2 linked regions of the Homo sapiens genome follow. The protein of the gene in region 1 interacts with the protein of each later gene in a pairwise test. Each region holds a gene or a part of one and is shown on either strand. Other genes may lie near its edges.

Region 1 (15,477 bases):
AGATTGCCCCACTGCACTCCAGCCTGGGCAACAGAGAAAGACTTCCTCTCAAAAAAAAAAAAAAAAAAGTGAGCAATCAGGAGACAATTGTTCTTCTGATGGCTGAGGTCACCATACAACCAAGGCTGACTGACGTTTCACTTTCTAAAGACTCAGAAAAGGAAGGAGAACCGTGTCCCACCTCACCCTAGCCCTTGTCTTCACTGACTGCAGGCCGCAGCCACCAGTTGGTTTCTCTGGGCTGTGTCCTCAAAGATACCAGGAATGCAGAAGGGTGGAGATACAGGCCAAGTGTTAACATTTGTGCTGGTTTGCAGATATAGTATTTTACCCAGGAAATCAGGGCTTACAAAAATATGAGGCAAATTTTTATCCAACGTACAGGTTAAGTTCTATCCCTAAATTCCATCAAATAATAATCTGATGTGTGAAAATTAGTAATTCAAAATTTACTACGCTGTTGGAACTTTAACATATATTGAGCCTTAAGGGAATATGATTATGAGGCCTGGGTCACATGACAGGCAGCTGTAACCTCTGTTTCTCCGATTAGATTAGCTTTTTTCCTTACCTACATTGTTTTGTAAAATGTAAATGACTGAAGGGTGCCAAGGAAGACCCCCTTGCTTCACTGTTGATCTTCATTACAGATTAACTTTTTTTTTTTTGAGACCAAGTCTCGCCCTATTGCCCAGGCTGGAGTGCAGTGGTGCGATCTCAGCTCACTGCAACCTCCGCCCCTGGGTCCAAGTGATTCTCATGTTTCAGCCTCCCAAGTAGCTGGGATTACAGGCACCCGCCACCATGCCTGGCTAATTTTTGTATTTTTTAGCAGAGACAAAGTTTCACCATGTTGGCCAGGCTGGTCTCAAACTCCTGACCTCAAGTGATCCACCCACCTTGGCCTCCCAAAGTGCTGGGATTACAGGCGTGAGCCACCGTGCCCGGCCATTACAGATTAACTTTCTATACAAAGACTTCATGACTATCACGTTGTCTAAGATGGGATGTTAAATACACTCCTCTCAATTGGAAAGGAAATAAAAAGTTGTAAAGAAAACAAGCTCTATGGAAAAGAAAAACTAACTGTTGTAACTCATAAACAAGCCTGTTGCAGAAAATGTTATAATCCTACTAAATGTATTTGTTTCCTGCCTATATAAGCTAAACCTTAACTTTTTTGGTTTTCCCCCAAGCCGACCAGGATGAGAAAGACCTTAACTTTCAACTTTGGAGCACTGGCCCCATTTCTCTGGTGCCTGTGTTTCTCAGGTGGTTACTCCCAGCTTTTCACTTGCATAAACTATTTAAAATTGAATTCTGAACCTTTTGATTATTTCAGGTGGATAGATAGATTTTGCAAAGCCTATGCATGTACATATTCACCCTAATTCTGTTACCGGAAAGGGGTCCCAATCCAGACCCCAAGAGAGGGTTTTTGGATCTCGAGCAAGACACAAGAATTCAAGGTGAAGCCACAGAGTAAAGTGAAAGCAAGTTTATTAAGAAAGTAAAAGAATAAAAGAAAGGCTAATCCATAGGCAGAGCAGTGGCATGGGCTGCTTGACTGAGTATACTTATAGTTATTTCTTGATTATATGCTAAACAAAGGGTGGATTATTCATGAACTTTCCAGGAAAGGGGCGGGGATTTCCTGGAAGTGAGTGTTCCTCCCCCTTTCTGACCATAGGTCACTCTTGTTGCCATCTTGGTTTTGGTGGGTTTTGGCCGGCTTCTTTACTGCATCCTGTTTCATCAGCAAGGTCTTTGTGACCTGTATCTCATGCCAACCTCCTGACTCATCCTGTAACTAAGAATGCTTAACCTCCTGGGAATGCAGCCTAGTAGGTCTCAGTCTTATTTTACCCAGCCCCTATTCAAGATAGAGTTGCTCTCGTTCAAATGCTTCTGACGATTCCTCTGTATTTTTTTCAGAATTCCTGTCTCTTTGGGCCCTGATACCTTAGCCTGGGGCTCACTGCTACCTGGAAGCACTAATGCAATCCTAGTTTTCTCCCCTAAAGCCCATTCTAGCCAGGTGGCAGGGACGTGGAGCCTCACTGTAGGTCACACCCTGGCGTGAAGGGCTGATCAGCCACCCCATGGTGTCCACATGGTTGTCTCTGCCTGGGGTGACCCTGCTTTCTGCACCTGGAGCAATCCTGCTCCTCCTTCAAGTCCCTACTCAGGTCTCCTCTGAATTCCAGTTCTACAGGGCTACTGTGAAAACCAAGGCCACAGAGGTCAAGCTTCAGGCACAGGCCTGACACAGGGCACCTGGTCCAGGACAGCTCTGATTGTCACTGTTGTCCCCTCTCCTTGCCCACTCCCTTAGGTAATCCATCCCTCCCTCAACCCCCTCTGTCTCTTACACATTCTCACATTGCTGCATGGTTAATGCAGTGTTGACCCCTCTCCTCCAATGAATCTCAAATTCCTTAAGGGCAGTGACCTTGTCTTGCTTCCTTAGGACCCCATATCTGGCTCTAGGCCTTAAACTTAGTGGACTCCACGGATATTTGCCAATAAACTCTGTCTCCTGGGATCCACAGACAGCAGTTTGATGAATGGTCAGGACATTGTGATAAATTAAAATTCATTGTTTGATGTGGCTATCGACACAGACAGAGACTGTGCTGCTAGTGACATCATGTCGGTCTGGTAATTAATAATGATCATTAGTAACGTTTACTTCAGGACAGTGCCCTTGGCCTGGACGTGTGGGGAAAATGGTCCAGAGCCTCACCGACTGAGTCACTGTGCCCTGTAGGAACGGCCTCTGATAGGGATGAGTGCCTGCTGCTGTGGGCTGCCCCAGTCTGCCCCTTGGGACAGAAGCTGTGTTTTATTCATCCTACATCTCAATAAACATTTTTTGATAAATCAATGAACTCCTTTGAAATCACACAAAACTAGAGGTGTTGTTGGAGACAAGCGGTTCAGAAGAGACCAGGCATTGTGGCTCAAGCCTGTAATCCCTGCACTTTGAGAGGCCAAGGTGGGTGGATCACCTGAGGTCAGGAGTTTGAGACCAGCCTGGCCAACACAGTAAAACCCTGTCTCTACTAAAAATACAAAAATTAGCTGGGTGTGGTGGTGTACGCCTGTACTCCCAGCTACTTGGGAGGGTGAGGCAGGAGAAGCCTGGGCAACAGAGCAAGACTCCATCTCAAAAAAAAAAAAGTTCAGAAGAAACCTCTTCTGGGTCTTCCAACTCCGCACTGACTGAAAGGAGAAGAGGCTCCAATTAAAGAAAATTCTAGAACATTCTGTGGGTCCCAGGCTTGTTCCACACTCACACCTCTGCACCGCTGTACATGCCATGTCCATCTGCAAGAAAGCCCTTCTGCTGTCTATCTGGGGACCTCCTATGTTTTTTCCAGGATCCCACTTATACACCTTCTCCAGCAGGTCTTCCTGCAATAAGGGAGTCTGGTGCAGCCCCTTGAGAGTTCTGCGTCCACTCTGGCCTTTTTCACAAGTTCGAGGCTGTCTTAGGGCAAGTAGGAGGAGTTGGCAGACAGGTCCTATCTCTGTACCTCTTGTTGATCTATTTGTTTAATTTAAAAAATTTGTGTGTGTGTGAGATAGGGTCTTGCTCTGTTGCCCAGGCTGAAGTGCAGGGGCATGACCACGGTTTACTGCAGCCTCAAAGTCCTGTGCTCAAGCAATCCTCCTGCCTCAGCTTCTCCAGTAACTGGGCTCACAGGCCCGCACTACCACCCCTGACTAATTTTTAAGTGTTTTTGTAGAGATGAGGGTCTGGCTATGTTGCCCAAGCTGCTCTCAAATTCCTGGGATTAGGAGGCCTCAGCCTCCCAAAGTGCTAGGATAACAGGTGTGAGCCACCACACGGGCCACCTCCTGTTCATCTAAAATGAAGTTGCTAGCCATCTGGGCGTGGTGGCTTACACCTGTAATCCCAACACTTTGGGAGGCCAAGGTGGGTGGATCACTTGAGGTCAGGAGTTCAAGACCAGCCTGGCCAACACGGTGAAACCCCATCTCGACTATAAATACAAAAAATGTAGCTGGGCATGGTGGTGCTCACCTGTAATCCCAGCTACTCGGGAGGCTGAGGCAGGGGAATTGCTTGAACCTGGGAGGCAGAAGTTGTAGTGAGCCAAGAATGTGCCACTGCACTCCAGACTGGACGACAGAGCACCACTTCATCTTAAAAAAAACAAGAAGGTGCCAAGGCACAAAATATAAGTTAAACAGTTTACTTGAGCCAAAATGAGGACAGCTGCCCAAAAGACTCAGACGCAAGTAATCTTGGATGTGAGCTCCCTTCTCTCTTTGTTACAAACAGGTTTTTAAAGGCAGAAAAAGGAGGACAGGGAGTGGGCTGATACAAAGTTGTTTGTCAGAAATTCTCATTGGTTTACAGAAATAACATTGATTAGTGATTGGCTGTACAGTGCTATAGGATGTAAGATATGGTGTCCAGTGCAGCATTGTTAGGTTATAGCTACCTGTGGCAATAGCAAGCAGTTTCAAGACATAAATACATAACTCAAAGTGGGAGTAGGACGTGATTGCTGTCTTATTTTAATGTCTCTCTGGGCCTGATAACTTACAGGACTCGCATTCCTCAGGTAAAAGTTCTTTTCTCACCACAGAAACAAGATCTGCAGCATAGGGGAAGTGTGTTGGCTCGGTCTGAAGTCGTTTTCCAAAGTGTCAGAGACATTTAAATCAGAGCAACTCCATCTTGAACAGGGGCTGGGTAAAACGAGGCTGAGACCTACTGGGCTGCATTCCCAGGAGGTTAGGCATTCTAAGTCACAGGTCGAGATAGGAAGTGGGCACAAGGTACAGGTCACAAAGACCTTGCTGATAAAACAGGATGCAGTAAAGAAGCCGGCCAAAACCCACCAAAACCAAGATGGCGACAAAAGTGACCTCTGGTTTTTCTCACTGCTTGTTATACACTATTTATAATGCATTAGCATGCTAAAAGACACTCGCACCAGCGCGCGACAGTTTACAGATGCCATGGTAGCAACTGGAAGTTAACCTACATGGTCTAAAAAGGGGAGGAACACTTAGTTCTGGCAATTGCCCACCCCTTTCCCAGAAAACTCATGAATAATCCACCCCTTGTTTGGCATATAATCCAGAAATATCCATAAAAATAACCAATCAGCAGCCCTCGGGGCTGCTCTGCCAATGGAGTAGCCATTCTTTATCCTTTACTTTCTTAATAAACTTGTTTTCACTTTATGGATTCCCCGCAAGGTGCCAGGTCCAAGAACCCTCTCTTGAGGTCTGGATCAGAACCCCTTTCTGGTAACAAAAGGATCTTGTCGCTGGCGTGACAGGGCATGGGTGCAGACTAGAGCACTGGGAAAGGCATATTAGGAGCAGTTTTTTCTTTTCTTTTTCTTTCTTTTTTTTTTTTTTTTTGAGATGGAGTTTTCGCGCTTGTTGCCCAGGCTGGAGTGCAATGGCTCGATCTTGGCTCACTGCAACTTCCATCTCCCAGGTTCAAGCGATTCTCCTGCCTCAGCCTCCGGAGTAGCTGAGATTACAAGCATGCACCCCCACACCTGGCTAATTTTTTGTATTTTAGTAGAGATGGGGTTTCACCATGTTGGTCAGGCTGATCTTGAATTCCGACCTCAGGTGATCCACCTGCCTCAGCCTCCCAAAGTGCTGGGATTACAGGTGCGAGCCACCGCGCCTGGCCTTTTTTTTTTCTTTTTTTAAGACAGGGTGTCACTTTGCCACCCAGGCCGGAGTATAGTGGCATGATCTCAGTTCATTGCAACCTCCACCTCCAGGGACTCAAGCGATCCTCCTACTTAGCCTCCTGAGTAGCTGGGATTATGGGTACTTGTCATGACACTCAGCTAATTTTTGCATTTTTAGTAGAGACTGAGTTTTGCCATGTTGCCCAGGCTTGTCTGGAAATCCTGAGCTCAAGCAATCAGCCCGCTTCAGCCTCCCAAAGTGCTAGGATTATAGGTGTGAACCACCACACCCAGCCAAGAGTAGGATTTTAAACACCAGAACCCCTTGAGGACTAAGCTCTGATTTTTTTTACCTTGCCCAAATTCCTACCTAAGAGGTCTGGAGAGTCATGCCCTACAAACCATAAATTCTCATCAGATGGGTTTTATTTAACCCTATATATCATGACTTACTTTCCAATCTGACTCTGGCATAATATTATGTGACTAAGAAGAAAGTCAAAAGATTTTACCCCAAAACATTTTTCTTTGCCATATCTTGAAATGGCCCTGCAAATCTGTCTTTTGTGGGGGAAAATTTGCATCTGTAAAGAATCTCTATTACCGGCCGGGCGTGGCGGATCACGCCTGTAATCCCAGCACTTTGGGAGGCCGAGGCAGGTGGATCAGGAGTTCAAGACCAGCCTGGCCAACATGGTGAGACCCCCCCCATCTCTACTAGAAATACAAAATTTAGCCAGGCGTGGTGGCAGGCACCTGTAGTCCCAGCTACTTGGGAGGCTGAGGCAGAGAACTGATTGAATCCGGGAGGTGGAGGTTGCAGTGAGCCGAGATCGCACCACTGCACTCCAGCCTGGGCGACAGAGCAAGACTCCGTCTCAAAAAAAAACAAAAATCTCTATTAACATAGATAGATATTTTTCCCGTTTCCTGCCCCACCCTCTCCCCTCCTCCCGGCTTTGAGTTGTCCTACCTTTCTGGACCAAACCAATGTATTTCTTAAATGTATTTGATTGATGTCTCGTGTCTTTCTAAAATGCTGCGCCCCGACCACTTTGGGCACATGTTCTCAGGACCTCCTGAGGGCTGTGTCACGGGCCATGGTCACAAATATTTGGCTCAGAATAAATCCCTTCAAATATTTTAGAGTGTGACTCTTCGTCAACACCCTCTTCAAACAAACCTAGGGATGGTCTTTCTGCCTGGATGCCTCAGCTGCGACCAGAAAGTCCACAAAGGAGCAGTGAAGCAGGGCTTGGTGCAGAGGCCATGCGGAAGGCACGGATTTTTGGAGACTGGAGAACCCAAGCGCAAATCCCTACCCCACTGCTCACCAGCAGGTTCTTAAGCAAATCACTCTGCTTCGCTGAATTTACTGTCCTCAGCTATAAAATGGTGTCCTCGGCAACTGGAGCTAGATGCCTTCGCCACTTTGCTGAAAGATATGAACTGTGCCCAAGGTGGGCGGTATCAGATAGGAGCCCCGAAGTGGAAACGTCCAGCGTGGGAATCTCCTCTCTACAGGGTCCCCAAGGAACTCCCGGCAGGCCCACTTCAGGGCTCCTTTCTGACACCGCCCAGCTCAACCTCTCAAAACGATTCACAAAATGCTGTAATAGCCACGATGCACCCTCACTGCACTGTCCCATCCGCCCCTTTTACAAATAGGAAGACCCAAAGATAAAAATAAGAAACCAAGGCCAGGCGCGGTGGTTCACGCCTGTAATCCCAATACTTTGGGATGCGGAGGAGGGCGGATCACCTGAGGTCGGGAGTTCGAGACCAGCCTGGCCAACATGGTGAAGCCCTGTCTCTACTAAAAATACAAAAAATTAGCCGGGCGTGGTGAAGGGCGCCTGTAATCCGAGCTACTCGGGAGGCTGAAGCAGGAGAATCGCTTGAACCCAGGAGGCGGATATTGCAGTGAGCCGAGATCATGCCATTGCACTCCAGCCTGGGCGACAGAGTGAGACTCCTTCTCAAAAAAATAGAAAAAAGAAACCCAAAAAGGCGGGGGAGAGTGAGGAAGAAAAGAAAAAAAAAACTGGAAGGCCTGGGCCGTGATTTGCCAGGGCCACGGCGTGGCCACCAAAGCGCTCCAGGACGACTCGGCAGAGCGCGGGCACCGTGGCTCAGGCGCGCTCCCCGGGGGCGGGGCGAGCAGGAGGGGTCACGTGACGCCCGGCCCGGAAGCGCTCGCGCAGGAGACCCCGGGTGACGGGGCCCGGCGCCGCTAACTGGAGCGAACCCCAGCGTCCGCCGACATGGCCTGGACCAAGTACCAGCTGTTCCTGGCCGGGCTCATGCTTGTTACCGGCTCCATCAACACGCTCTCGGCAAAGTGAGTCTGGGCCCTGCCGGGCGTGCGGGCCCTGGCGACCCCGGCGCTCGTTCTACGCCTTCCCCCTTCTTGGCCCTGCCCTCCTGGCTTCCCCTGCTTTCCCACTTGCTCCGGTCAGTTCGCGCGCGTTATGACCACCCAAGGGATGCGAGGCCCGGGGAAATGCGGAGCGGGGCTGCGCCCCGGACGGGGGGATCCGAGCCCCGGCTTTGATTTGCTGTACAGCCTCCGCTCCTGTTTCCACGTCTTTTAACAGGAGGGTTGGCCGATTCCTTTCCACGGCCCTTCCAGTGCTGGCGTCCAAGCCTGAGCACCTCCCTCCACGAGCTGGGAGAGACCCCTGGACTTGTGCACATGAGCCGCAGTAGTGGCTGTGCAGGCCGAGTGACCCAGTGAGCGTGGAGGCCTCAAGCGGCAGACAGGGAGGTGCCCCACGGCCCCTCAAGGATGAGGGGTTAGAGCTGTGCTTTGAAGCTTAGGTGGGATTTCGGAATGTGTCTGAGACTGTAAGTCAAGGAAAGTCTACGGAAAGGCCAGATCAAAGTCGATTGTAACCAGCATCAAATGCCCAGGTTAGATTTTCTCTCATAATCAGAAAAGTGCTTTTGAGCTGGGGAATGACATGTTGAAAGTGATATGATTGACTCAATGACATGAGGAGTGGTTTGGTGCAGGAAAAACCACTCCAAGGCTGCTGCATAGCAGATGAGGGGAACTAGGAGGTGGCAGTGAGAAGAGAAAGGAAGGGACAACTGGTGGCAGAGACCAGGTGTGAATGGCCACAGGCCTGACCCACATGAGCAAGAAACAAGGATCACTCCAGGGTTTCTGCCTGGGAGAAGAAAAGTGCCATTAACTCAGACAGAGAGGGCAAGTGGCCAGTTCAGCTCTGATGTATGGGGGTGAGAGGGGGGACAGTTCCCAGGAGGTTAGGGACTAAGGACCCAGGCAGTCATGAGACTGAGGGACAGGGCCTAGCCTCCCCTCTGTTGTGGGCAGGATGGCATTTCTTTGTCTCTCTCTGTCTCCATCTCAGGGCAGGGCCTTCCTGCCCCTCCTTTTCTTGTTGCCCAGGCTGGAGTGCAATGGCACGATCCCATGTATAAGGTACCTACGGTGTGTAAGGGAAGGGGACAGAAGTGACCAAGAGGCGATCTCTGCCTTTGAGATGCTTGGAATCTGAGGTGGAGGAGACAGACGTGTACGCACACGACAGTCACAGTGTTCTCCCTTCCCCAAACGGTGGGCACAGTCAGTGGAGTCCTGGGTGGGCCCCACCTGTTCCTCTGGTTCACCTCTGGCCAACTGTGCCTTGTGGAGAACTACTAGCTTCCCAGGCCCTGCATCCTCCTGAGGATCACTCCTCATGCTGAATCCTTAGCTGTTCAGAGGCCCCAGCCTGAGGGCTCCCATCTCAGGATCTGAACACAGCAAAGCAAGTCTTCTGTTCTGTCATGCCAGCCAGGGCCTCTGTCAAGTGCTTAGAGAGCGGTTGTAAGTCCACCAGGGCTGCTGCCCACAAGGAGAATCCAGATTGCCAGTTACTGCTGGGGTAAACTGTGCTGATTCACCTCCTTCCTTAGAAAACTCCAAACCAGTCAGGTAGGAAGCTTAGAGATCCTCAATCCCAGAAGGCGTCGCCTTTAAAGGCTGCCTGAGAGTCAGGAAAGAGGCTCCCAGGTGACAGACCCAACTTTTGGTCCTGTCCCCTGCCTGACAGCTGGTGTGGGGCCTCTCAGGATCCTCCCACCCCAAGATGGGCCCCCAAATTGGACCCTAAACAGTGTTCTAAGGTCAAACCACAAGAAGGGATACTCTTAGGGAGAAAGAACATGTGGGAGCAGCTGCATGCACCCCGATGTGAAGTATGGATTTGAAATCACATTTCTGGCCCGGCGCGGTGGCTTACGCCTGTCATCCCAGCACTTTGGGAGGCAGAAGCGGCTGGATCACTTGAGGTCAGGAGTTTGAAACCAGCCTGACCAATATGGTGAAACTGCATCTCTACTAAAAATACAAAAATTAGCTGGGCGTGGTAGTGCGCACCTGTAGTCCCAGCTACTTGGGAGGCTGAGACAGGAGAATTGCTTGAACCCGGGAGGCGGAGGTTGCAATGAGCCAAGATTGCACCACTGCCCTCCAACCTGGGTGACAGAGTGAGACTCGGTCTCAAAAAAAAAAATAAAAGGAAATCACATTTTTGACCCACGATTTCCAGCAGGCACAGACAGACAAGCATGTGCTGACAACTAGCAGAAGCATCTCATGCACAAAGAGCACCTCGCATGCCCCAGGCCCTGCTCTGCCCTTTCATGTGTGAACTCAGGGAATTCTCATAACCACCCTATCAGGCAAAGACAGGGGCTGATATTCCTGTATAAGGAAACTGAGGTAGGAAATGATTAAATTCCTTGCCCAAGTTCAACTTAGCTACTAAGTGGCAGAGTTTATAGTTGAGCCAGCATGGTCTGGCTCTAGCATCCATGCTCTTAACCACCACTGGAGGGTGTGGCTGGGGACTTCTCCAGTCATTTTGGGGTCATTTAGAGTTGTTAAAAGCATAGAAATCATCCAGTCTAATCCCCACAATTTACAAAGGAGGCCTCAGGAGAAGTTTCTTTCTGTGATTCAACTGTTTGGTGTCTGAATGAAGGCTGGAACCCAGGCCTCAGGACTTTAAGTCCTGTTCTTTTATGACTGTGATACCCCAGAGTCCCTCCTTCCTGGGAGTTTCCTCTCACAGCTCCCCAGGCCAGGACAGAGAAGCCTGTGCTTGTGGAAGTTGTAAACCTGTAAGTGGCATCTGCGCTCCCAGCCTTTGATGTGCCTCTCTCCAGGACTGGGCTGCCAGCCTCTCAGCCAGCCCAGAGACACTGCTGACAGGGTCCTCCCGCTGGAGTCCAGGCCACTCAAGGTTCAGACTGACAGCCTGTGGTTGTCTCTGGCAGTTTCTTGGCCTGTGACAAGAGTGATGTTTCCCTTCCCAGGTTCTTGGGAGGATGAAAGGCAGTGGATGAGGAAGCACATCTGAGCACGTGCTGCCTGCTGTGCTGGGGCGGCAGGTCAGCTTTCCTCTCTGCGGCCCCATCCCTGGGTCCTGGCAGGGGGCCCCTCCCTGTGAAGTGGCTTCTTCTTTCCCTGGCTGTTTTCTCAAAACCTCCTCACTAGCACCTTCTGTCGATCATCTTCTTTAGGCCAAGCCATTTCTGTCTACGTGAGCCAGTGCCCCATCCACAGGTACTCATTTCAGAACCCCAGTCTCCTGAATCCAACTGAGGTTCTACATATGAAGAGCCGGGGTCAGCTGGGCACTGTGGCTCCAGCTTGTAATCCCAGACTGGAGGCTGAGGTGGGATGATCATTTGAGCCCAGGAGTTCAAGATCAGCCTGGACAACATAGGGAGACCTCGTTCTCTACAAATAATAATAATAAATAATTAATTAATAGAGCCAGGGTCAAGTAGATGCTCACTAAGTAAGGCTCAGCTCCCCTCCTAAGTTCTGCAGGCTGTAGGGCCCTCCCAGCCAGGCAGGGATATGAGCCTGACTTCCTTTCATGCCCAGGCCAGGGACCCTGCCAAGAAGGTGGCAGGAAGCCTGGAAACCACTAGGCCTCTACTAGAGAAGAGGTGTTTGCTCTTCTTCTGTGTCCTTTCTGTGCCAGCTCCAATGTTTGCCCTTGGCAGCTGCCCCACCACCCTTGGGTTCCATGAACTGGCATGGGATAATTGCTTCAAAGGGGTTGTTGGGCCAGCTTGTGGAAGCCTTAACTCAGGAGGACAGTGTAGTAGAGTGGGAAGTTCATGAGGCTTGGGACCTGAGGAATAGATGAGCCACTGGACCTCTGTGAGCCTCAGTTTTCTCATCTGTAAAATGGACTTGGTGATCCCTGCCGTACCTTCTTCCTGGACACTGAAGATCTACTGAGGAAGGTTTCCTTTTTTTTTTTTTTTTGAGACGGAGTCTGGCTCTGTCATCCAGGCTGGAGTGCAGTGGTGTGATCTCAGCTCACTGCAAGCTCCGCCTCCCGGGTGAACGCATTCTCATGCCTCAGCCTCCTGAGTAACTGGGACTACAGGTGCCTGCCACCATGCCCGGATAATTTTTTTGTATTTTTTTAGTAGAGACAGGGTTTCATTGTGTTAGCCAGGATGGTCTCGATCTCCTGACCTCGCCCATCTCGGCCTCCCAAAGTGCTGGGATTACAGGCATGAGCCACTGTGCCCAGCCTTTTTTTTTTTTTTTTTTAAGACACGGTCTCTCTCTGTTGCCCAGGCTGGAGTGCAATGGTGCCATCTAGGCTCACTGCAACCTTGAGCCATCCTCCCACCTCAGCCTCCCAAGTAGATGGGACCACAGACACCCGCCACCGTGCCCACCTAATTTTTGTATTTTTTGTAGAGACAGCGTCTTGCCATGTTTCCTAGGCTGGTCTCAAACTCCTGGGCTCAAGCAATCCACCTGCCTCAGCCTCCCAAAGTGTTGGGATTACAGGCATGCACCACCACACCCAGCTTAAGGAAAGTTTTCCATTCCATGGAGATGAGAGGGCTCACCATTGTCACCTCAGGAGCCAGGGCCACCTGCTGTGGCACCCCAGAGAGTGGAGAAGCCTTGGCCCTTCTGTAGGTCCCAGGCAGGAGAAAGAAGGGGACTCACTGGGCTTGACAAGCTGGGGACACAAGAGGAAGTGGCAGAGATTCTGTGGGAATGGCCACAGCTAATCTGCCCAAGCCAGCCCCATCGCCACTTCCTCAGTCTGTTTTCGCCACCCCCGTTCACGTGGACGTGCACACCTCCCAGAATGCTGAGCTTTGAGTTTGGGCCTGGCCATGCTAGGGAGTGACTCACCACCCAGCACGGAGAGCCTACTCCCCAGCCTGCCCGCCAAAAGGAGCGGCCTCAGCTTGTCCCCGCTAGGACCCTTCGGGCCTCCTGCCCTGGAGGTCATCTCCCCTAGAATACAGTGTCTGTGGAGAAGACAGGCCCACCTACTGGGCTGCCCCTCTCCTCCCACCAGCTAGGGGAGCAAGAACTCAGAGGAGAGCTTCAGAGCATCAGGGAGGGGGCGCATGACTGCCTGCTGAGCTTCCAGTGTACTGGCCCTGTTTCAACATCTGAGGAGCCGTGAGCCCCTCGAGCCCTCTCTGGCCCCTGGGTTCCTGTCTGTCAAATAAGGAGTTCAGCTGATGGCTGAGTTTCTTCTGTTTCAGCATTTTGGCTCTGTGAACTGCAGGGACAATAGCCTGAGGTCCCTCCAGCCACCTCTGCCTCAGCCAGCAGGACAGGTTCCAGACGTTTTTCCAGTAGCTTTCAGGCTGAAGGGGAGCTGGGGCCACGCTGAACCCAAGGGGGAGATGGCTTCTGCTCAGTGAAGGGAAAGGAGAAGGGGCAGAAAATGAGTTTTGCTGAATACCTGCCATGTGCCAGGTCATGTATATATCCTTATATCATGTATTGCTTCTGACAGTTTGTCAGTGTTGGTATGATTACCCTGTAACTTGTCCAGCCTGTGGGACTCAAAACTCTGGGTTTTCTCTGTATTCTGCCTTTTCTGAGTATAAATTCAAGCAAGGTTTAACCCTGGATCTGCCTTAAGCCTCAGAGTCCCCATCTAAAATGAGGATCCTTGTTGTAAGGCTTAACGGGACAGTCCCCATGAAGTGTCCTATGAATTGTGCATTTAAGGAAACATGGGCTGGGTGCAGTGGCTCACACCTGTAATCCCAGCACTTCGGGAGGCTGAGGCAGGTCAATCTCTTGAGGCCAGGAGTTCGAGACTAGCCTGGGCAGCATAAACAAGGCTGCATCTTTGCAAAAAATACAAAAATTAGCCGGGCATGGTGGCCCATGCCTGTAGTCCCAGCTACTCAGGAGGCTGAGGTGAGAGGATCATATGAGCCTTGGGAGGCTGAGGCTGTAGTGAGCCGTGATTGTGCCACTGCACTCCAGCCTCAGTGACAGAGTAATACCCTGTCTGAAAAACAAAACAAAAAAACAAACGTTGTTGGCCGGACGCAGAGGCTTATACCTGTAATCCGATCACTTTGGGAGATTGATACGGGTGGATCACTTGAGGTCAGGAGTTCGAGACCATCCTGGCCAACATGGTGAAACTCCGTCTCTACAAAAAATATAAAAATTAGCTGGGCATGGTGGTGGGTGCCCGTAATCCCAGCTACTTGGGAGGTTAAGGCAGGAGAATCACTTGAACCTGGAAAGCAGAGGTTGCAGTGAGCCAAGATCGCGCTGCTACACTCCAGCCTGGGTGACAGAGGGAGGCTCCGTTTCAAAAAAAAAAACAAGAACAAAAACAAAAGACAACAAACAACAAACGTTGTGAAGAACTGACAGCAAAGTGCTGCCCACCTTAGGGGTCACTGCTGTCATCCCCAGGCAAACTGGGGCTGGATTTTTGTTCTAGCCTGTGAGGCTGGGGTCTTTTCTGATTCTGCGCCAGGAGTCGAAACCTGTCTCCAATCCAGGATGAGAAGCCTGGCTTTCTGCCCCAAGGTACCTGCAGGCCTGAGCATCTCAGGCTGGGCAAGGCAGCCCATGCTGCTGACACCCAATCCCTTGGGCTGTCAGCCTGCCCCAGGCCCTCAGATACAAAGAGATACCATTTCCCCAGCCGGGAGCGCTGCCAGCCAGGCCTGTCTAGGCAGACCTACCCGTGGAGAAAGCGAAGACAACCCCTGTGGGAGGTGGGGAGCTCAGCACCAGCCCTACAGTCAGCTCCCCAAGAAGCGCCCCAGCCTTGGGGAAGGACAGGCCCCGAGGGGTTTCCCCTATGGACCAACTTGTTCTACCAGCAGGGGGCCCTCAGACTCAGGTGGGAAGTAGGACTCATGGAAATGTGGCCTCAGCTTCCATACCTGCCCCCTACAGACAAAAATAATAATAAAATAAATAATAATCCTTGCCTGAAGCTTCTGATCAACCTTCATGGCCTGGCAATAGCTCCCTTGTCCCTCCTAGAGGAAACTTGGCTCCTGGCCTGGGGATTCCCATCTCTCTGACTTCACTTGCTCTGGGCAGTTGGCTCTGTGCCCTTGGTAAGGCTTGACCTCTTCTCTCTTCCTTGCTTTGCCTCTGTTTCACTCAGTTGCCTCATGCAGGCCTTCTCAGGGGGCTCTTTCTGCAAAAGCAAGACTGGGTTCGAGAGCAGCCCTGCTGGGTCTGTGGCCCTTACCCATGTTCCATGTCCTGTCCTGGCCAGGGATCCAAGAGCCAACAGCATATCAGGCAGAAATTAGGCACCATGGGTGCAGTGGCTCATGCCTATAATCTCAGCAACTCAGGAGGCTGAGGCGGGAGGATTGCTTGAGCCCAGGAGTTCAAGACCAGCCATGGCAACATAGTGAGACCCTCTCTCTAAAAAAAAAAAGAGAAAGAAGTGAGACTCCAGCCCATGAGGTCAGGTGTTTCCTGACCTGGGGT
Region 2 (14,462 bases), on another chromosome or scaffold:
TGTGTTTGTTGTCAGCCTTTCTCCTAACAAAACATACTCTCCCCAAAGCAGGGCTGTGTCTGTGTCATTTTATGCTATATCCCCAGAGTCTGGGTCAGTGCCTGGCACCGAGAATGTGCTCAGTAAGTTAAGGAATCGCTGCATCCATTCTGTCAGTCAACAAGTCCTTCTGAGCATCCAGTTCACTGGCCCATGCTGGTCTCAGCCAACAGAAAGGGAATTGAGTTCCTTGCAAGGTCTGGTGGGGACAGACAGTTCTGAGAACCAGTGACTCTTAGAACAAGGAGATGAGGCTTTCACAGAGGGAAGCACAGAGTGTGGTGTTATTCTGCTGAAGCCCAAAGAGGTCAGGGAAGGCTTCCAAAGGAGTGTTTGCCAAGCACAAAACAGCACGGGGAATGGCATTCCGTGGACAGGTCTCAGCAAGTGCAAAGGCTTAGAGGTAATAGAAGTGCGAGCAGAATTCCAGGGTGGCTGAGAGAGAAGTTATGTGGGGAGTGGGCAGCGGTTAAGGCCAAAGAAGAAACACTGGATCTGCATTCCTTAGGACGGTGCCCTGTGGGCCCCTCACAGAGCTTCTCTCCTGCAACTGCTAGGTGAAAGAAGGCAGGCTTAGAATCGGACTGAGATCAGTAGTTTCTGCAGCTGGGAAGATGAGTGAGGTGAGATTGCATGTGTGATAGGCTGGCACTCAGGGAAGACCTCAGGGTTCTCTCCTCCCCACTCTGAGGCCCCTCTCCTGCTTCCTGAAGCCCAGAGTCTCCACCTCTGTGAGCCAAACACCTTCCTGTTATCTGCCTGGTCCTAGGGCAGCCTTCGGGTTGGGGTTAGAAGGAATGCCAATGGTTAACCTTGTGGTATTAAGCTTCCAGCTCAGGCAGATACTCTCTGGACTGGTTCAAGCTGACTGCCTGACTGTCCCTCCCTGCTGGCCCTAGCACCCAGACTCCAGATAGGCGCACCACCTCATCCTTCAGAGCAGGGCTCTGAGACTCCACAAGTGGTGAGGACTTACCAGAGGAACTGAACTTGACCTCCAACCCAACCTTCCATTTGCTGGTATTATTCTGAAGCCCTCATGGCCTAGGGAACTGCCTCAGGTAGCAGGTCTCACTCCTGCAGTGGAGGGGCCATAAAGTTCAGTTCATGATCAGCCCCCAAGCCATGGGCAGTGGATGAGAGGGCAGGAGCTCCATCTAGAGGAGCTCCCGTGTTCAGGCGTTCCTAGACACCTGCCTGCCCTTCTCCCATCAGCACTGGGGTATAAAGAAGGAAAGAGGCCTGAGGGTTCCAGAGGCCTCTACCTGCTGAGGTCTTAAGAGGACTCAACCCTCTGGGAAATACAAATAAAATCCTCAACCCTCCAAACAACTGAATGGACACCTCTTGGCCAAAGAGACCCCGGAAAAACTTTAAAATCCAAGTTTCCTGGCCGTGATGATAGCTTCCTCACGAACCGTTACCAGGCTTCTTTCCCAAGAGCTAAACAGAAACCAGCCCTGGAAAACCAAGAACAGGAGACTCCTTCACTGATTTCGATTTCAACCAACTGCCAGATTCCCTTTCCTTACCTGATTTTGACATGACAGCTGATCAGCTTACAAAACATTCCTGGCTGATCAATGACTCCCAACCATGGACCAGTTCTGGCTGGTTTACAGAGGCAGCACACAAAGTGCTTGGGTCCTGTGTTTCCCCTTTTGACATACAGAGGCAAATTTGACTGCATTTTTTTTTTTTTTTTTTGAGATGGAGTCTCACTCTGTTTCCCAGGCTGGAGTACAGCGGCGCGATCTCTGCTCAGTGCAACCTCCGCCTCTTGGGTTCAAGGGATTCTCCTGCCTCAGCCTCCTGAGTAGCTGGGACTACAAGCGCCTGCCACCATGCCCGGCTAATTTTTGTATTTTTAGTAGAGATGGGGTTTCACCATATTGGCCAGGCTGGTCTCGAACTCCTGACCTCAGGTGATCCACCCGCCTCAGCCTCCTGAAGTGCTGGGATTACAGGCATGAGCCACTGCACCCGGTATCAACTGCATTTTAATGTCTCCACTCCAAAGGGAATATGGGACATATGTAATATGTATGTTTGCTTAGTACACATGTGTGCAACTATCACAAATATTCATAGATTCTCCTAAAACCTATTAAATATGTATGTTTAGCCAACTCTTTTAGCATAAAACCCTTGTTCTACCCTCACTCCACTTCCCAGCCTGCACATCATAAGAAATAAAGCTCTCCTAGGCTGGGCGAGGTGGCTCACACCTGTAATCACAGCACTTTGGGAGGCCAAGGCGGGCGGATTGCTTGAGGTCTAGAATTTGAAACCAGCCTGGTCAACATGGTGAAACTCTGTCTCTACTAAATATACAAAAATTAGCAAGGCATGGTGGTGGGCACCTGTAATTCCAGCTACTCGGGAGGCTGAGGCATGAGAATCGCTTCAACCCAGCAGGCGGAGGTTGCAGTGAGATCGTGCCACTGCACTCCAACCTGGGCGATAGAGTGAAACTGTGTCTGAAAAAAAAAAAAGAAAGAAAGAAAAAAAAGGAAAAGAAAAAAGAAAAGAAAGAAAGAAAGCTCTCCTTTCTAAATGTAAAGATCTTGTGATTTTAAGCCAATATAATTGAAGACAAGAGTAGGATCCACAGAGCAGCCCAGGCTCCCCGCAGCGTGAGTGAATGCACTGGTGGCTGGTGGAGCCATTGACAGCTCAGTTGTCTCCCTGACAGCTTTGGGAGGAAGGTGGGTAAGCTCTCCCTGATCTAAGATCTCCTGGTTTTAGGTTGACATTTCAGAGACTTCATTTTTTTTCTCTGATCCTCTCCATCCAGACCCTGCAAGGGCTATCTTTGCTGTGTTGGGTTTCTAGTGGGGGAGGTTGGGGGCAGTTCAGCCTGACTCATCCGGCCCATCAGGTTTGGTGAGGATGCTTGCCCTCTAGTGGCACTCGCAGGGACGTCTTTAAGTAAATGCTGTTATGGGGAACCTAGGTTCTAAGGGGACAGACAGTCCCTGACCAGCTGCCATCAGGAAGTTACATGTTTCGGAATTATGAGAAAAAGTCTTGTGAATATTTGGGATCCTAGAAAAAGCTAACCTGGAACAATTAAAAGCTTTATATGCCAAAATGGAGATCTTTTGACAGAACGTTTGACATGCCTCAATTCGTTTATTAGTAGGCACAATGAGAACAGAGAGAGTTCTAGACCTCTGAGAAGCAATGGGAGGCCCTTTTGTGTGTGTGTGTGTGTGTGTGTGTGTGTGTGTGTGACAGGGTCTCACTCTGTCACGGGGACTAGAGCGTTGTGTACAATCACGGCTCACTGCAGCCTCGACCTCCTGGGCTCAAGCCATCCTCCCACCTTTGCCACCCAAGTAGCTGGGACTACAGTCATGCACCGGCACACCCTGCTAATTTATTTTCAATTTTTAATTTTTTTGTAGAAACAGGGTTTTACCATGTTGCCCAGGCTCGTCTCAAATTCCTGGACTCAAGGAATCCTCCCATGGGAGACCATTTTTAAGTGGTATTATGAGAGTTCTAAACACAGGAATCTCAGATAACCTCCTTAAATGAGATTAATTCAAAACTGAAGGAGTCTAATTCAAAACTTGACCAGCACATTCAAAACTATCTGCCACTATTGAACAGGTAGCTGGAGATACTGCACAAAGCCTTCCAGCCCAACAAAGTCTCTGAATTCCCTGGCTCAAGTAGTAATAGATAATTTAATTGCCTTAGATTTTCTCTTAGCCAAACAGGGAAGAGTCTGTGTGGTGGTCCCTAAGATCTGTGGCACTTACATCAACATTTCAAGTGAAGTAGAAACTATACAGGGCTGGGCCCAGTGGCTCATGCCTGTAGTCCCAGCACTTTGGGAGGCTGGGGCCGGAGGATCGCTTGAACTCAGGAGTTTGAGACCAGCTTGAGCAACATGGGGAAACCCTGTCTCTACAAAAAGTACAAAAATTAACAGGACATGGTAGCACACACCTGTAGTCTCAGCTACTTGGGAGGCTGGGGCAGGAGGATTGCTTGAGCCTGGGAGGCGGAGGTTGCAGTGATCAGAGATCATGCCATTGCACTTCAGCCTGGGAGAGAGAGAAAGACTCTGTCTCAAAAAATAAAAATAAAAAGAGAAAAGAAAGCTGGGCATGGTGGCACACACCTGTAATCCCAGCTATTCAGGAGGCTGAGGCACAATAATTGCTTGAGCCTGGGAGGGGGAGGTTGCAGAGAGTGGAGATTTAAGATTACGCCACTGTATTCCAGCCTGGGTGCCAAGTGAGATTGTCTCAAAAAAGGAAAAGAAATTCATACAGAAATAATTTTCAGCCGGGCATGGTGGCTCACACCTGTAACCCCAGCACTTTGGGAGGCCAAGGGGGGCAGATCACCTGAGGTCAGGCTTTCGAGACCAGCCTGGCCAACATGGTGAAACTTTGTCTCCACTAAAAATACAAAAATTAGCCAGGTGTGGTGGTGCATGCCTGTAATCAGGAGGCTGCATTCAGGAGGCTGAGGCAGGAGAATTGCTTGAACCCGGAGGCGGAGGTTGCAGTGAGCTGAGATTGTGCCACTGCACTCCAGCCTGGGCGACAGAGCGAGACTCCATCTCAAAAAGAAAAAAGAAAAAAAAAAAAGAATTTCCAAACAAGCTAAATGGTTACAAGATGTATGAACTACTGATCCCATCAATTACCTATTTAGTTGGCTTTCTACCACACTGGGAAGTTCCTTTCAAGATGCCATTCAAGTCCTTGTTATAGTAATAGTCTCCATTAACCTTTTCTTCTTAACATTTAATTACCTATAATATGTATAACCAACTGCTGTAAGTCTGCTGCTAAAACCAGAATTATGCTGGCTCAATGCGTAGATCTTATAGACAAGTTAAATTGGTAGCCCTACCTTTTGGCCTTTATGTTGCTTGATAGACCTTAGGGGTTGAGGTCTGCCCACCTCTATTCCTGTCTGGCCAGAGTTCAATTGGCTATAAGTCTCTTGGCCACAAGGGTCCCACCAAAGGACTGGATGGACCTGGAGCAGGCAACCTCACCATCCTGGCAACAACATGATACAAATTTTGCCATTGATGCTGCCTGTGGCTGATCTCAGCTAAAAAGAGGAAATGTGAAATAAAAAGAAAACCCGCCGGGTGCGGTGGCTCACACCTGTAATCCCAACACTTTGGGAGGCCGAGGCAGGTGGATCACCTGAGGTCAGGAGTTCAAGACCAGGTTTGCCAACATGGTGAAACCCTGTCCCTTCTAAATATACAAAAATTAGCCAGGCATGGTGGTGGGTGCCTGTAATCCCAGCTACTCAGGAGGCTGAGCCAGGAGAATCGCTTGAACCTGGGAGGCAGAGGTTGCAGTGAGCCGAGATCACGCCACTGCACTCCAGCCTGGGTGAGAGAGCGAGACTCTGTCTCAGAAAAAAAAAGGAAAAGAAAAGAAAAGAAAATCAAAGCCCCCTCAACTGACTGAACAAACCCATCTTGGCCAAGGAGACCCCACAAAAACTTCAAAATCTAAGTTTCTTGGCTATGATAAGACAGGAGGCTGGTCACACCCCAGTACACCCTCTTCCTTACTGTTACCGACTTTTTTCCTAACAGTTAAGAAGAAACCAGTCCTGGAAAACAGATGGAAGAATCCTGCTGATTTCAACTTCAACCACCTGATGCTGTGGCCAGACGTCCCTCTTTTTTTCGTGTTTTTATTTTGTTTTGTTCTTGTTTTTGTTTTTTTTTTGGAGACAGGGTCTCTTTTTTTTTTTTTTTTTTTGAGACAGGCTCTGTCACCCAGGCTGGAGTGCAATGGCATGATCTCGGCTCATTACAGCCTCTGCCTCCTGGGTTCAAGTGATCTTCCCGCCTCAGTCTCCCAAGTTGCTGGGACTACAGGCACACACCACCATGCCTAGCTAACTTTTGTATTTTTTTGTGGATATGGAGTTCTGCTGTGTTGCCCAGGCTTGTCTCAAACTCCTGGGCTCAAAGGATCCACCTGCCTTAGCCTCCCAAAGTGCTGGGATTACAGGCATGAGCCACTGGGCCCGGCCTCTTTTTGTGATTTTGATATGACAGCTGACCAGCTCACAAAGCATTCCTTCCTGATCAATTCCTATTAACCATGGGGTGGTTCTGGCCAATTTAGAGAGGCGGCACACAAAGTGCCTTTGTGTCCTATGTTTCGCCTTTTGATGTGTACAGCCTAAGTCTGCATTTTTTTTTTTTTTTTTTTGAGACGTAGTCTCGCTCTGTCACCCAGGCTGGAGTGCAGTGGCACCATCTTGGCTCACTGCAAGCTCCACCTCCCGGGTTCATGCCATTCTCCTGCCTCAGCCTCCCGAGTAGCTGGGACTACAGGCACCCGCCACCACACCCGGCTAATTTTTTGTATTTTTAGTAGAGACAGGGTTTCACCATAACACATGTTAGCCAGGATGGTCTCGATCTCCTGACCTCGTGATCCGCCCGCCTCGGCCTCCCAAAGTGCTTGGATTACAGGCGCGAGCCACCATGCCAGGCCTAAGACTGCATTTTAAGGTTAAGTCTTGGCTGGGCATGGTGGCTCACACCTGCAATCCTAGCACCTTGGGAGGCCAAGGTGGGAGGATTGCTTGAGCCTAGGAGTTCGAGACCAGCCTGGGCAATATAGTGAGACCCTGTCTCTCTCTTTTTTTGCGGGGGCGGGGGACGGAGTCTTGCTGTGTTGCCCAGGCTGGAGTGCAGTGGTGTGATCTTGGCTCACTGCAACCTCTGCCTCCCAGGTTCAAGCAATTCTGCCTCAGCCCCCAATAGTAGCTAGGATTACAGGTGTGCGCCACCATGCCCAGCTAATTTTTTTATTTTTAGTAGAGACGGGTTTTCACCATGTTGGCCAGGCTGGTTTCGAACTCCTAACCTCAGGTGATCCGCCCATCTCGGCCTCCCAAAGTGCTGGGATTACAGGCATGAGCCACTGCACCCAGCCTTCTTTCACTATTTTTAAATAAAAATATAAATAGGCCGGGTGCCGTGGCTCGCACCTATAATCCCAGCACTTTGGGAGGCCAAGGTGGGCAGATCACTTGAGGCCAGGAATTTGAGACAAGCCTGGCCAACACAGTGAAACCCCATCTCTACTAAGAAATAATATCAAAAAATAGCTGGGTGTGGTGGTGCACACCTATAATCCCAGCTACTCTAGAGGCTGAGGCAGGAGAATCACTTGAACCCATGAGGTGGAGGTTGCGGTGAGCCGAGATTGTGACACGGCACTCCAGCCTGGGTGATAGAGTGAGACTCTGCCCAAAAAAAAAAAAAAAAAAAAAAAACAGGCCAGGTGCCGCGGCTCACACTTGTAATCCCAGCACTTTGGGAGGCTGAGGTAGGCGGATCACTTGAGGTCAGGAGTTTGAGACCAGCCTAGCCAACATGGTAAAACCCCATCTCTACTAAAAATACAAAAATTAGCCAGGCATGGTGTCAGGCGCCTATAATTCCAGCTACTCGGGAGGCTGAGGCAGGAGAATCTCTTGAATCTGGGAGGCGGAGGTTGCAGTGAGCCAAGATCGTGCCACTGCACTCCAGCTTGGGCTACAGAGCAAGTCTCCGACTCAAAAATAAATAAATAAATGAAAAAATAAAAAAATTAATGTTAAATCTCAACCCCAAAGTGAACACAAGATGTATGTAACATGTATGTTTGCTTAGTATACATGCATGTGGCTCCCTTTCATGAACATTCATAGCTTTTCCTATAACCCATTAATATGTATGCTAGCCAACCCATTTTACATAAAACTCCTGTCCCACCCTTCCTCCCTCAAATTGCCTGCTTTTGGTCTCAGCCAAAGGCTCCACTTACCAGCCTGCAGGTTACAACCTGACATAAGAAAAAATATTGTTTCCAAATATATAGATCTGGTGATTTTAAGTTGACACTTCTCAGGTTGTCACAAGATTCAGGTATGGCTCACTGTTGCAGGACATAAGCTGGGATCTCCTGGGAATTGGTCTGCTTGCAGGCCCTAGAGAGCCTTCCTTCTTGGTTGATTTTCCTCTAGAGATCCAACTGTCTTCTCAGGCTCCCCTGCCTGCCTCCTCCTTGGGTCCTTTCTTGTGGCATTGCCCAGATTACTGGGCCCCCATTTTCCCTACACTTACTGCCACTCATAGTCTGATGGTTCCCACATCTGCATCCAACCTGGACTCTTCCCCTGAGCTTTCCCCTCTACAACCACCTTCCCCGGGCCAAGGGCACACAGGCACCTCGACAAAACAGTGTTCTATGTTTCTTCCTGCCCAAACCTGCCCCTCCCTCTCCCTTTTCCCATCTGTGGTACCACCATGGGCTCAGAGAATAAAAAAAATGAAGGCTTCTGTCATTGACTGGGGTGGAGATGGAGGGAAGAGTTAGCCCAGAATCACAGGTGCTGTAGAAAGGATACCTGAGTTGCCGGGAGAGGGGGTCCATGAGTTGGGGATGGAAGGAGAGCTTGGCCCTTCAAACAATTGAAGATCTGATCAAAAGATTCAGAACATCTGTGATTTTGTGGCTGGTGATGGGTGACACCTGGGCTAATGGGGTTGGGGGAGTTGGTGGCTCTACAATTTATGGCCTTGGGAGATCCTTGCTCTCTATAGCTGACTGGGAGGTTGGAAGCCTGGGCTCTAGCCCTTGCCTTGATCCTCCGGATCTCATTTTCCTCATCTGCCTAACAGGACAGAGGGGTTGGAAACTGATGAGATTAGCTCAAAGGATCCTGGCAGCTCAGGCTGCAAGATTTTTTTCAGACCTCAGTGTTTGGGAAAAAATTGGGTAGGTGGAGCTTAGGGACTGGCCTTAGGCCTGCACTGTTAATTCACCCCCTCCCACTACCCCATGGAGGCCTGGCTGGTGCTCACATACAATAATTAACTGCTGAGTGGCCTTCGCCCAATCCCAGGCTCCACTCCTGGGCTCCATTCCCACTCCCTGCCTGTCTCCTAGGCCACTAAACCACAGCTGTCCCCTGGAATAAGGCAAGGGGGAGTGTAGAGCAGAGCAGAAGCCTGAGCCAGACGGAGAGCCACCTCCTCTCCCAGGTATGTGACACTCCCCATCCCCCTTCAGAGGCCACACACCCTATGGCATTCCCACCATGTGTTAAGGATTTTCTGAACTGGAAGGGCCCTCTGTTTGCCTGAAGGCCAGAGAATCTTGAAGTGGAGACTGAGGCCCAGACCAGAGTGTGGCCTGCTCAAGGTTAAACGACAAGTTAGTGTTCATCCCCCTGAACTAGTACCTGGGCTCTAGCCCTTCAGTCCAGAGCTGAGTTCTCAGCTCTTCTAGTCTGGGGCCCCAAGGTTGGGTGTGGGGGTCATGATTGTTGGTGGGGAGGGGTCACAGCTGGACTAAGACCTGAAGGTGAGACTAGGCAGGTGGGAAAGGAGCTTGCAGAGTGATGCTGCTCAAAAGGACAGGAAGAGAGCCTGGCTTCAGAAGCAGCCACAGCAAGAGAGACTACTGACTGAACAGGTGGGCTCCACTGGGGGCTGGGGAAAGGATTTTCTCAGCCCCCATCCCCAGCACTGTGTGTTGGCCGCACCCATGAGAGCCTCAGCACTCTGAAGGTGCAGGGGGCAAAGGCCAAAAGAGCTCTGGCCTGAACTTGGGTGGTCCCTACTGTGTGACTTGGGGCATGGCCCTCATCTGTGCTGAAATGATTCCACAAAGATTAAACTGGCTATCATTTGTTGATTTCCCCCTTCTTACATTTAATCCTTGCAGGAGAAAGCTAAGCCTCAAGATAGTTTGCTTCTCTTTCCCCCAAGGCCAAGGAGAAGGTGGAGTGAGGGCTGGGGTCGGGACAGGTTGAACGGGAACCCTGTGCTCTAAACAGTTAGGGTTTGTTCCCGCAGGAACTGAACCCAAAGGATCACCTGGTATTCCCTGAGAGTACAGATTTCTCCGGCGTGGCCCTCAAGGTTAGTGAGTGAGCAGGTCCACAGGGGCATGATTGGATCCTGGAATGAATGAATCAACCATGAGAGAGTGAATGAACACTGGAATCAATAGAGTAGCAGAGTAATGGATTGTGGAGCAGGAAAGAGAGCTGCTGGGTGGGAATTCAATTCCAGGCTTATATGAGCCCTGCTGTGCAGTCGGCCTGGAGACAGCCCAGCTCAGGCCCTGCCTAGACCCCTGTCAAGGAGGCCCTGTCAAGAGGAGAGGAGGGGCAGCACGGGGGCAAGGCAAGCTTGTGAGCGGGAAAGGCATGTCCACTTTAGCGACTGGTATGTGGAAGATGAGTTAGAGGAGACAGATGGAGAGAAGTCATAGGAAATAAATTCTGAGCATTTTAGGAGGGCCCAGACACCTGGTGTCCAGTGGAGTGAAGGAAACAGTCGCCTCCCAAAATTCAGTGTCTGAGGTCAAAGGATTGAAGTTCTGTGATGACCAAGGAGAAGCCAGCTCTGTGGTAGGGGGCACAGGAGCTCCCCAAGGCCCCAGGGCTGTCCAGCTGGCTGTCCCCTGCCAGCACCCATGTCCTGTGACCCCACCCCACCAAGATCCCATGGTTTCCGGGAAGGGCCTACTAAACTAGCTTGAGTGATGAGGCTAGAAAGGGGCTGGGACCAAGGTTTAAAAAGCAAAACAAACTAACAAAAACCACACTGCAGCCCCCCCAACTAAAACATTTTTATAAACTTTTTTTTTTTTTTTGAGATGGAGTCTCGCTCTGTCACCCAGGCTAGAGTGCAATGGCACAATCTTGGCTCACTGTAACCTCCACCTCCTGGATTCAAGTGATTCTCCTGCCTCAGCCTCCCACGTAGCTGGGACTACAGGCACACGACACCGCACCCAGCTCATTTTGTATTTTTAGTAGAGACAGGGTTTCACTATGTTGGCCAGGCTGGTCTCAAACTTCTGACCTCAGGTGATCCACCCACCTCAGCCTTCCAAAGTGCTGGGATTACAGGCATGAGCCACCGCGCCCAGCCCATTTTTGTAAACTTTTACAATGAAGTAATTTGGTGTCAAAATCTGACCTGAAAATTAATGTGAGTTTATGTATAGTTTTAATTTATCCCACTAGTGTAACTGTTTCACCCCAGAATATACACTTGATTATTGGGTATATGAAAATTATATTTTCTTTGAATCACCTTTGATGAAATCCTAAAAAATTTTAACCCTGAAACATTTGAATAAGGCATTGTGGACCTATGGCAAACTCCTGGCTATTTCTGCATTTTGCCCAAATCCATCCTTGAATTATATCACCTGAACCTCGTGACCACCTGGAGAAGGCAATGAGGCTCAAGCCAGGGAGGGGTGGTGTCTAATCCTACCTTTCATTGGATCTGGGAAAACTGAGGGAGATGGGGGCAGGGCTCTATCTGCCCCAGGCTTCCGTCCAGGCCCCACCCTCCTGGAGCCCTGCACACAACTTAAGGCCCCACCTCCGCATTCCTTGGTGCCACTGACCACAGCTCTTTCTTCAGGGACAGACATGGCTCAGCGGATGACAACACAGCTGCTGCTCCTTCTAGTGTGGGTGGCTGTAGTAGGGGAGGCTCAGACAAGGATTGCATGGGCCAGGACTGAGCTTCTCAATGTCTGCATGAACGCCAAGCACCACAAGGAAAAGCCAGGCCCCGAGGACAAGTTGCATGAGCAGGTGGGCCAGGGGGTGATCTGGGGTGGTGAGGGACTGGCTCAGGAAGAGGAAACGAGGACATGGAAATGCCAAACCCCATTCACTGGTGAACTGAAGTGGAGGAGCCCTTCAGTTTGCATTAATATGGGTGACTATTTCACAGACACTGTGCCAAATGTCGGTACAATGCCAACAGTTCACCTTCTTGGTTGTTGAGTTTCCGCATTACAGAAATAAGGAAGCAGGCCCAAAGGAGAGCCTGGGAAATGAAGTTGGAGTGACCCATCCTGGGGTTGCTTGATTTAGGGATTTAGACTGGGAATGACTCCTCCAAAGATCTGAGGGAAGAAACTGCACACTGTGCATAGTGGCCTCTTTTCTGCCAGCCCTAAACAGCTCAAGAAGGGAGAGTCTCTCACATTATGAGGCTGTGTGCAAAGCATTCTTTTTTTTTTTTCCTGAGACAAAGTCTCCATATGTTGCCCAGGCTGGTCTCAAATTCCTGGACTCAAGTGATCCTCCCACCTCAGCCTCCCAAAGTGTGGGATTACAGAAATGAGCCGTACGCCCTCCTGAAGCATCTTGGTTCATGCATCTCGCAAAACTTTGGGCTGTGTCTCTCGACCACATTGGACCTGAGGTCTCCCTATAACATTTATTTTGCTACCACCCCTTTAATATCCTGAACATGATGATATAACTAAAGAAAAAGCAGAGGAAAAGTAATTTGTAGGCCAGGTGTTACGGCTCACGCCTGTAATCCCAACACTGTGGGATGTCGAGATGGGCAGATCACTTGAGCTCAGGAGTTCGAGACCAGCCTGGGCAAGATGGCAAAACCCCATCTCTACTAAAAAATAAAAAAAATTAGTCAGGTGTGGTGGCACATGCCTGCAGTCCCAGCTACTCAGGAGGCTGAGGTGGGCAGGTCAGTTGAGCCCAGGAGGCAGAGATTGTAGATCGTGCCACTGCACTCCAGCCTGGGCAACAGAGTGAGACCTTGTCAAAAGAAAGAAAGAACGAAAAAAAGAAAGAAAGGAAGGAAGGAAGGGGAGGAAGGAAAGGGAGGGAGGAAAGGGAGGGAGGAAAGGGAGGGAGGCAAGGGAGAGAAACTTGTAATACGCATTTCTTTTTTTTTTTCTTGAGATAGAGTTTTGCTCTTGTTGCCCAGGGTGGAGTGCAGTGGCACAATCTCAGCTCACTGCAACCTCCACCTCCCAGGTTCAAGTGATTCTCCTGCCTCAGCCTCCTGAGTAGGCACACGCCACCACACCCAGCTAATTTTTTGTTTGTTTGTTTGTTTTGTTTGTTGGTATTTTTAGTAGAGATGGGGGTTTCACCATGTTGGCCAGGCTGGTCTCGAACTCCTCACCTCATAATCCGCCCCTCTTGGCCTCCCAAAGTGCTGAGATTACAGGTGTGAGCCACTGCGCCCGGCCTTAAGTGCACATTTTATTTATTTATTTATTTATTTATTTATTGAGATGGAGTCTTGCTCTGTTGCCCAGGCTGGAGTGCAGTGGCACAATCTCAGCTCACTGCAACCTCCACCTCCCAGGTTCAAGCAATTCTCCTGCCTTGGCCTCCAGAGTAGCTGGGACTATAGGCACCTGCCACCATGCCTAGCTAATTTTTGTATTTTTAGTAGAAATGGGGTTTTGCCATGTTGGCCAGGCTGGTCTCCATTCTTGACCTTAAGTGATCTGTCCACCTCCACCTCCCAAAGTGCTGGGATTACAGGCACTATGTGAGCCACTGTGCCGGCCCACATTTTAATATTTAGCTTGTCAGCCTTAAGTAATGAGATTCAGGAAGCTTGAGGATAGGCACACAGGAGCATAGTTTCAAGTTGTCCTGAATTTTGCAGCCATCACAAGTTAGTTTTTAAGGAAAAAGATTAGTTCCTAAGTTGTTTCTCAATAACTTATAATAAAATAACATCCACAATTGATTGGCTATACATTGTTTTTTTGTATCACAAATTCCACAAACAGATAATGGGTGAGGCAGCTAGTCAGGGACAAAACACTTCCCAAGTAGCTGGGATTACAGGTGTCCGCCACCACACTTGGCTAGTTTTTTGTTTGTTTATTTTTTGAGATGGAGTCTTGCTCTGTCGCCCAGGCTGGAGTGCAGTGGCATGATCTCGGCTCACTGCAAGCTCCACCTGCCGGGTTCACACCATTCTCCTGCCTCAGCCTCCCAAGTAGCTGGGACTACAGGTGCCAGCCACCACGCCCGGCTAATTTTTTGTATTTTTAGTAGAGACGGGGTTTCACCATGTTGGCCAGGATGGTCTTGATCTCTTAGCCTCGTGATCCACCCGCCTCGGCCTCCCAAAATGCTGGGATTACAGGCGTGAGCCACCGCACCCGGCCTAATTTTTATATTTTTAGTAGAGACGGGGTTTCACCATGTTGGCCAGGCTGGTCTCAAACTCTTGATCTCAGGTGATCCACCTGCCTTGGCCTCCCAAAGTGCTGGGATTACACAAGTAAGCCACTGCACCCAGCCTGGGGTTACAATTTAAATTGCTTTTTTACCTTCAAATCTTTGACACCTCAGTGAGGCTTAATCTGACCGCACTATTACACTACAAGTCCCCATCCGTCTCTGCTTAATTTTTGTCCAAAGCAAAAATCAGGTGATGTGTTCATTGTTGTAACCCCAGTTTCTACAAAAGTACCTGGGTGAGAGTAAGTAGGATCTCAATAAAGGTTGAATTAACAAATTTTGTAATGACTGCAACTCCAGCAGGAGCTCCCTTTTGGGCTCCCACTGTCTCTGACGGCCCTCTCCCCTAAAGAGGTCCCAATAGC

The links.
Region 2: the proteins of SLC35F6 (region 1) and FOLR1 interact in binary tests that used the Homo sapiens proteins (3 or more experiments, as listed by UniProt).

Annotation. Positions count from the first base shown.
Region 1 is NC_000002.12:26,756,390-26,771,866, forward strand, and holds the start of SLC35F6 (solute carrier family 35 member F6 precursor), read left to right. Parts: upstream 1-7,894; 5' UTR 7,895-7,960; coding exon 7,961-8,037; intron 8,038-15,477. UniProt on the Homo sapiens protein: Involved in the maintenance of mitochondrial membrane potential in pancreatic ductal adenocarcinoma (PDAC) cells. Promotes pancreatic ductal adenocarcinoma (PDAC) cell growth. May play a role as a nucleotide-sugar transporter.
Region 2 is NC_000011.10:72,180,678-72,195,139, forward strand, and holds the start of FOLR1 (folate receptor alpha precursor), read left to right. Parts: upstream 1-11,462; 5' UTR 11,463-11,496; coding exon 11,497-11,664; intron 11,665-14,462. UniProt on the Homo sapiens protein: Binds to folate and reduced folic acid derivatives and mediates delivery of 5-methyltetrahydrofolate and folate analogs into the interior of cells. Has high affinity for folate and folic acid analogs at neutral pH.